Linked DNA regions of Homo sapiens. The protein of the gene in region 1 interacts with the protein of each later gene in a biochemical or structural test. Each region holds a gene or a part of one and is shown on either strand. Other genes may lie near its edges.

Region 1 (3,500 bases):
TTTAGTGTATTCATTTTCATTCTGGGACGAGGGGAGAGGAGATGAAGGTGAAAACAGAAAGCATTGGCATTTGGAAATGGCTGAGCTTTCTGTTAATTTCTTTCTTTCTTGCTAGAAATACTGGTAAAGTGTAAGAAAAAAACAATAATCAGAGAAAGAACTTCTCAGTGTTAACTAGCTATGTGCTCTATCAGGAAGCATTTCAGGTTTTCAAGTAGGATTTTAGTTAATAGTGCATGGTTTTTATTATACTTTAAGTTCGGGGTACATGTGCAGGACATGCAGTTTTTTTACATAGGAATACATGTGCCATGGTGGTTTGCTGCACCCATCAACCCATCACCTACATTAGGTGTTTCTCTTAATGCTATCCCTCCCCTAGCTCCCCATCCTGTGACAGACCCTGGTGTGTGATGTTCCCCTCCCTGAGTCCACCTGTTCTCCTTGTTCAGTTCCCACATCTGAGTGAGAACATGTGGTGCTAGGTTTTCTGTTCTTGTGATAGTTTGCTGAGAAGGATGGTTTCCAGCTTCCTCCATGTCACTTTTGACATGGACATGAACGTATCCATTTTTATGGCTGCATAGTATTCCATGGTGTACATGTGCCACATTTTCTTTATCTAGTCTGTCATTTGGGTCTGGACATTTGGGTTGGTTCCACATCCATGGTTTTTAAAACAGTGTTTTCAAAACTCTTTGAAAACTGTTTACCTAAGTATTAATAATGTGAAAATGGTTATTGATGTTAAGGTGAGATGCTGTATTTCATATGTGTGCAATAAATGGATATCATTCTTGAAGACTCATTGTGTCCATTAACAAATTGAGGTCTCTGAACATTCCTGTTTTTAAAAGGAAACTTTGTCATTGTTTACATAAAATTTTCCAAGCTTATACACTTATATATTAAGATCTGAAAGGCAAATATTCAGCAGAATAGCTGTTTGTGAACACAGTTCTAGGGTAATAACCCATAAAAATTTTAGTATAAATAAACAAGGATCAAAGTTATTACTCTAATTTTCTCAGATCCAGAATATTAAGAACTTACATATGCATCTTGGTGGTTCTGACCAGTCTCCATTACTACATGTTACATATTTAGAACCCTGAAGTTCATAGTAGGACTGGCACTGGTACTCGACTCTTGACCATGGCAGATACACTTTTTGCGGGAAGGACGTGGTATCTCCATTGCTAATAGGTGGAGGAGGCCCACAGTTTTCTGAAGAATCTGAAAAAAAATACTTTACATTGGGGAAAAATCAACAGTTTTATTGGAAACTTTCTGAATAAAGCTTTTTATATACTCTTAAATGTATCTTATTTGATTTCTTAGGAAGACATTTGTATTTTCAACCTTTTTTTTTAAGTTTCAAGGTAATTCACACTCAAATGAGGACTACATGTATATGTACACATATGTATTCATACACATATGTGTACATATACATATGTATGTTTCTATTTGTTTAATTCTAGTAAAAAGAAATACTTGAATAAAATACTTACTATAGCATGTTGGCAAATGGGACCAGCCATCTTCACCACACACTATGGAATCTGTGGTGTTTCCATAACTGCTTTCATATCCATCATAGCATTCATAGTCCAATGTGTCATGGAGCTTAAACCACATGCCATTACTCTTGGCTCTGGAATTCTCAAAAACAGGCATATCACAAAATTCTGAAACAAAATAAAATTGAGGATTGCTTTTCTATGCCATATGATGTACAACTCGACTAAGAAAGTCCCATTGTAGGAATAAAATTTACCAATCAGTGTGTGCTAATAAATTGAGTACTATTAAAAATAGTCCGACAATCAGTGTTTTTTTTGTGCTATAACAGTTAATTACAAGAGAAAAATACATTTCCCTATAATGATCCTTCTCATTATTCAAACCCTATGAAAAACATATTAAGACTATTTAGTCAGATCTATTTTTATTTGTGAACACCTCATTGACTGTTATTACAGTCTACCTTTATCACTATAATGTATTATTTTAAAGAAGATAAAATTTTGTGAATTTAAAAGTTAATGTACATATTTATGTACTCAGTTTACTGACAGGGTTTATAAGTTGGATTAAAATTATATTCATTGGATATACGTTCTATAAAAATTTTAAAGCATCTTTTATTTTACAAATCTTAGATCATTTATCAAAGCTGGTCAAATCAGATTGAAGTGTACAGCTTTGTCTTTTGCAGAGCCCGTGATAAGCATAGAAATTGAAAACAGTATTCTAGAAATGTACGAATTGATATTTTATAGCTCCCAAACCTCAGAGTAACTTTGAGATAATCACTTTCTAAGTGTAGCATTTTCTTTTTTCTCACTTAGATTAATATTTTTGAGATTCATCCATGTTCAATTACATATCAGTAGTCCTTTCCATTTCGTCTCATGGCTAAAAATAGTTGAATTGTACCCTTGAAAATGAAGTGGATTTTGCAGTATGTAAATTATATATCAATATGTGTGTTAAAAATACATTAAATGATTTATCTTTACAAATCTTGGTGAATGCCTAAAGAGGAAAGACAAAAAAGATAAACTTTTGCCACTGCAAGGTTTCCATTGTTCATTATGCAATCTCTTTATTAATAAATAATTACAAGTTGGGAATGTTTTAGAGAACTTTAGTTGTAAGGAATCCATTGCCAAGTATGAGGTTTGTAAACATTCAGCCCACCCACTTACTCTTTTTCTTTACTTGTTTTCTCTGTACTAGACAATAAGCTGGAAATAATTTTTTGAGTTGGTTCTCCTCAGTTGCATCATTGATACAAATTATTGAAGTCTCATTTTCCTGATGCTAGCAGAAACTCAGAATTAAGCACTCATCCCTTCCCTAACATGTACATCTTAAGAGTGTGAGCAAGGAATACAATACAAGCAGTTGATAATTTTGAAATACAAAGAAAGGGAAAAGAACAAAGTTTTTATTGACAAGTAATACATTGTGCTGATATTCCCATGCAGCTCCCTAACTAGTCTGTACCTGATGGGATTGCTTTTACGTAAAGGCAAATTGAATTGAGAGAGATGGAATGATCATCTTCCCAAGTAGCCATTACTCTAAAAAGGCAAAAAAGACTTAGTTTGGCACAGAATGTTAGATGATGTTAGAAGTATTTATATCTCTTTACTCCTAAAAGTGTTTTCTATCTTTTTCTGTAAAACACTATCACCTCAAAGAGAGGAAAGAAGTTGACAGAAACTGAGTGGGAATATGTAAATAACTTACTAATGCAAATTGGTTGTGTTGACCATCCATTTTGCAAACATGTAATTGATCCTGAAGAATTTCCCTCTGCTGTTGCATATCCTGGTTTACAATTATATTGTGTTTCTTCATTTAAAATATAAATAGAGGAAGATTCAGAAATGAATCCATTTTCAATTTCTACATCTGATTTTGAGCATGTTCCTAAAATAGAAAAAGTAGAGAAAAAAGTAAATATTTGTTGAATACTTCTTTTATAG
Region 2 (3,988 bases), on another chromosome or scaffold:
GCTCATCATGCTGTACACTGCCTGGAGGGCCTTCTTGGTGTTAGTCCCTGACTTCAACTTGTGGTCTGTGGAGAGGGAAGAGACCATCACCTCACCTGGTCTTCCAAGCCATCTTTTAACCCCAGAGACCAATCTGCAACTGAAATCCCACATCTTTCAACTTTTTAAGTTAATCATCATTACACGGACTTCCCTTTGACCACAAAGTGGCCCTTCCAGCCCCCAACAGGTTCCCACTAACCTCCATTGCCCAACGATCCTGCTGTTCAACTTTTGACTACAAAGTGGTCCTCCCTGTCGCCCTCAAGGTAGTCTCATGACCCCCTCCACCCTGAACCTCCTGACCCCAAAGTGAACCTCCCACCATTCCCTAACCTCTGACCTTCATAATTGATTTCATTGAGCTGCTTCGTGACCCAGTCTGCATTACTGCTGTCTGCTTCAGACACTTTGACCCAAATTTTGGGGTATGTGGCATATGTCACTAGACCATATCTTGGCTTCACACCATAACTTGCCACCTGTGGGTGAGGAGAACAAGGCGCCATGGCATTGAAAATAGAATACTGTGATTGGGAGATTTCAGCGACTTTGCTGGGACAGGGAGGCTCTCAGTAAGAGGCTCAAGGGCTGAGGTTCATGGAGGAATTACCAGTCAAGAAACTGCTTCAAGTAAAAGGGAAGGAGGACAGAATAGGACCTGGAGATTTTCCTGGGGCCCTGTTGTTCAGAGGGGCTGGAATGATCAGGGAGCTAGTCCTGGAAGATCAGCGAGATTCCATTCCCCCGAGTTCAGGGATAGGAGGATTCCACCTTCTCAATTAAGTTGACTAGACACTTTTTGGCTCCTGTGAAGTTGCTGGCCCCAATGCTGTCTGATCCATCTAGCACCAGGTAGATGTTCATGGAGCCTGAAGGGTCCAGGACGATCTTCCGCTTCTGTTGTTCCCCTGGGTGCCAGGAGAGTGGCTCAGGCTCCAGCATTAACAGTTCTGTCCCTTCTCCATTTTCCCCCAGTTCCCTGCCCTGCCTCCCTTCTCTGTCTTCAAACCTGGGCCGTGCCCATCCTCAGCATCGACTCCTTCTATGGTCTCTGTCAGGGAAGACAGGAAAGCTTCGGCCACCTCTTGAGGGGTGTCGTACATGAAGGAGTCTGGGAGAGTCAGAAATGAGGTCAAATGTCTGGGAGTGTCAGGGATACAGTGACCAAAGAGACGGGGGATCATGGGTTTCCAGGGTATAAAAGGCTCAGAAGTGAGATAGTTGTACAGGGAGGTTTAAACAAAGTGAGGAAAGAGCAGGGTTGAGGTGGGGAGAGAAGACAGTAGGATGGAAGACCAGGATCTGACCTGGGGGTACAGGTCAAAGGTCACCTTGGCAGGAAGGCTCCGTCCCGCTCCAAGAGCCACCTTCCTGACACGTTCGCCGCTGGGAGCCACGCAGGGTAAGCCCCCGGCTGCAGTGGTAGGTGACGCTGTCTTCAAGGCGGTACTGGCTGCCCACCTTCCTTGTGCCAATGGGGATGCCCGGGTTGGAGCAGTACCCCGCTGCAGAGGTATGAGACATCGAGGTAAGCACTGAAGCCTGAGGCCCCGTGAGCAAGGTAGAGAGCAAGAGTTACAGTGTCCGGAGCCGAGTGCCCACTCCTCGGGCTGGGCGCCGTCAGGGAGACAGCAATGTAGGGGGAGGGGATGCTTCTCACCTCCGTTGTCACAGATCGCTGTCTGCCCACTCCATCGGCCATTCACTTGGCAGGTGCGATTGGCAGAGCCCCGGAGAGTGTAACCGTCATAGCAGTGGAAAGAGATCTCATCACTCACATTGTAGTAGGGAGACCGGGGCCAGTATTCCCCGTTCTCGAAGTCGTGTGGTCTTGGACAGTGGATTGCTTTGAGAAGGGGGGACAAGTAGAAGTCATCAAGAGGGAAAGGCTGCCTTAGGTGTATCCCTCCTGGTCTCGGAGACCATGTCACTGAGAAACAGCGCATTCCCAGTCCCGCAGAAGCAGCATCTTACCTACTCCTCAACCCATATGGATTTCCACTGCTTCTCCCTCCCCATTTCTGAGTGTTCTCTTGACTTCCAGGGCTGCCTGGAAGCCCAGGGTAAATGCTTAGTAAGGGTTAACTCCGCTTTTTCTTGCCCCCTTTCCGCCTGCCACCCTAAAACTGCTCCTACTCCCGGTCAGCCCACCTTGTCACCCTGCCTAGTCTCATCCTAGTCCTGACCTTGCTGCCGCCTGCCCTGTTTCTGCCTTAGGCCACTGCCCACACTCATTGCCCTCAAACCTCTGCACTCTGCCTTCCTGACAGTCTTTTGGTCTTGAGTCTTCAGGGTGCTCCAGGACCCCGTAGATCTGCAGGTACGTGTCTGCACAGGGTACGGGTAGAAGCCAGAAGGACACACGTACTCCAGTGCCTGGCCCTCTTGGAGAAGTCGGAAGGAGCCGCCTTTGATCTCTACCCCCTCCAGAGAGCAGGATCCCTGGGGCCGGGCCAAAGACCATGGAGTGGTGGTCACACCTGAAGAGAAAGGCTGATGAAGCCTGGCCCCAAAAGGCCAAGGAGGGATGCTGGAGACAGCAGGAAGGGAAGGTTACCCTCGCTTACCTCCAGACAAGAGGCCCAAGATAAAGGGCATCAGGCAGAGTTGGGGGCTGAGATTGCTCCCCATGGCGTTGGAAGGCAGGAGAGAAGCTGGGCCTGGGGCAGGATGGTGTGTCCTGGCTTGCTTTGCTTGTCTGCTTGGCTCAGTGTCCAAGCTGAAACTCCAGACCTAGACCTGGTCACATTCCCTTCCCCTGCTCCCCACCAGCCCCCAGCCTTTTATACAATCTGTGTTCTGGCACCTGCGGCTCGCCCCGCCTGTCCTACCCACATCACTTTCCCGGAACATCCAAGCGGGAGGGCCCCGCTGAGCTGCCAGTCAAGGAAACAGAAACTGCAGAAGTCCCACCCTTTGCTGCCAAAGGTCCAGGACTCTCCCCTTCAGTACCTCCTCTCCGGCCTTAGCTCCTCCCCAGTAAGCCCAAACCACCCACTTAGGGACCAGAAATAAGGATCCAGCTCACTCCCCTGTTGATTGTGTGTTATGGTGCAGAGTCCAGCCACTGTTTGTCCAGTGGGGTCTCTGACCTGCCTTCCTGTAGCTCTTGGAGTCATTCTGGCCTCCCCCTCCCCCAAGGCCAGCCCTACCTGGCCTCCAGATAGAGGCACTGAGAGATGTGGAAACCATTGATTTTTATTAATTTCATAACTGGGAAATTCCATGTGAAAGTGAAACAAGCATGAGTCAAGTCAACCAGGGAAGGAATCTGGGGACAGGCCAAGGAGCGGGAGGTGGGGCAGCGAGGCAGTCCTGCTGGTAGGAGCCCTGAGGATTTCCCAGCTTGTGTGCGCTGCCTCTGGCATCCTAGAGACCCGGATTTACTCAGCTAGGAGAGAGGATGGATCACAGGGTCTAAGGGTGGCCATTCAGAGGTAGAAGATGGAGGGGCGGCAGATTCTGGCAGGGCAGCAGAGGGCTCAGTGGCCATGGCTAGAGGGGTAAAAAATTCAGGACATCCCCCAGGTGCTGCCTCAGCCAGGGCTGCATGCGGAAGAGATTGATGTGAAAGTCTCGTGGCGGCGGGACCTTGCTACGAGGGGCCCTTTTGCGGGAGTTTTTGTCAGCAGAGCCAAGGCAGGGGTTGTAAAGACCCCAGCTCACCAGACCCACCTGGAGAAAAGGAGAGAACTGGCTGGGAGGCTGCCACAGCCCCAACTGTAAGCCCCAACCTCCCTAGATCCCTCAAAGGCCTCCCTCATCCCCCCAACAAGGCTGAGATCCTGTAACCCCTGGGTCCTGCAAGCTTCTACCTTCTCACCTGAAAAAACCTGAATCTCCGCTCAAGGAAAACTGCTCCCCCAGATTCTCCTGCCAGCAAAGGGTGACAGGAGACAGTGTCATCTAGGGCAGTGGACTGGTGTTCTGGCATGCATGCTGGCCA

What was found. Proteins that work in one complex are often made in the same cells at the same time.
Region 2: the proteins of CFHR4 (region 1) and CFB form a complex in vitro, tested with the Homo sapiens proteins (one study listed by IntAct).

Annotation. Positions count from the first base shown.
Region 1 is NC_000001.11:196,905,052-196,908,551, reverse strand, and holds part of CFHR4 (complement factor H-related protein 4 isoform 1 precursor), read right to left. Parts: intron 3,445-3,500; coding exon 3,262-3,444; intron 1,692-3,261; coding exon 1,515-1,691; intron 1,250-1,514; coding exon of another isoform or gene 1,237-1,249; coding exon 1,054-1,236; intron 803-1,053; exon of another isoform or gene 1-802.
Region 2 is NC_000006.12:31,944,907-31,948,894, reverse strand, and holds the start of CFB (complement factor B preproprotein), read right to left. Parts: upstream 2,801-3,988; 5' UTR 2,674-2,800; coding exon 2,610-2,673; intron 2,523-2,609; coding exon 2,289-2,522; intron 1,889-2,288; coding exon 1,703-1,888; intron 1,548-1,702; coding exon 1,374-1,547; intron 1,154-1,373; coding exon 1,052-1,153; intron 951-1,051; coding exon 814-950; intron 522-813; coding exon 383-521; intron 66-382; coding exon 1-65. Other genes in the region: complement C2 isoform 1 preproprotein, read right to left, coding at 3,538-3,717, 3,866-3,915.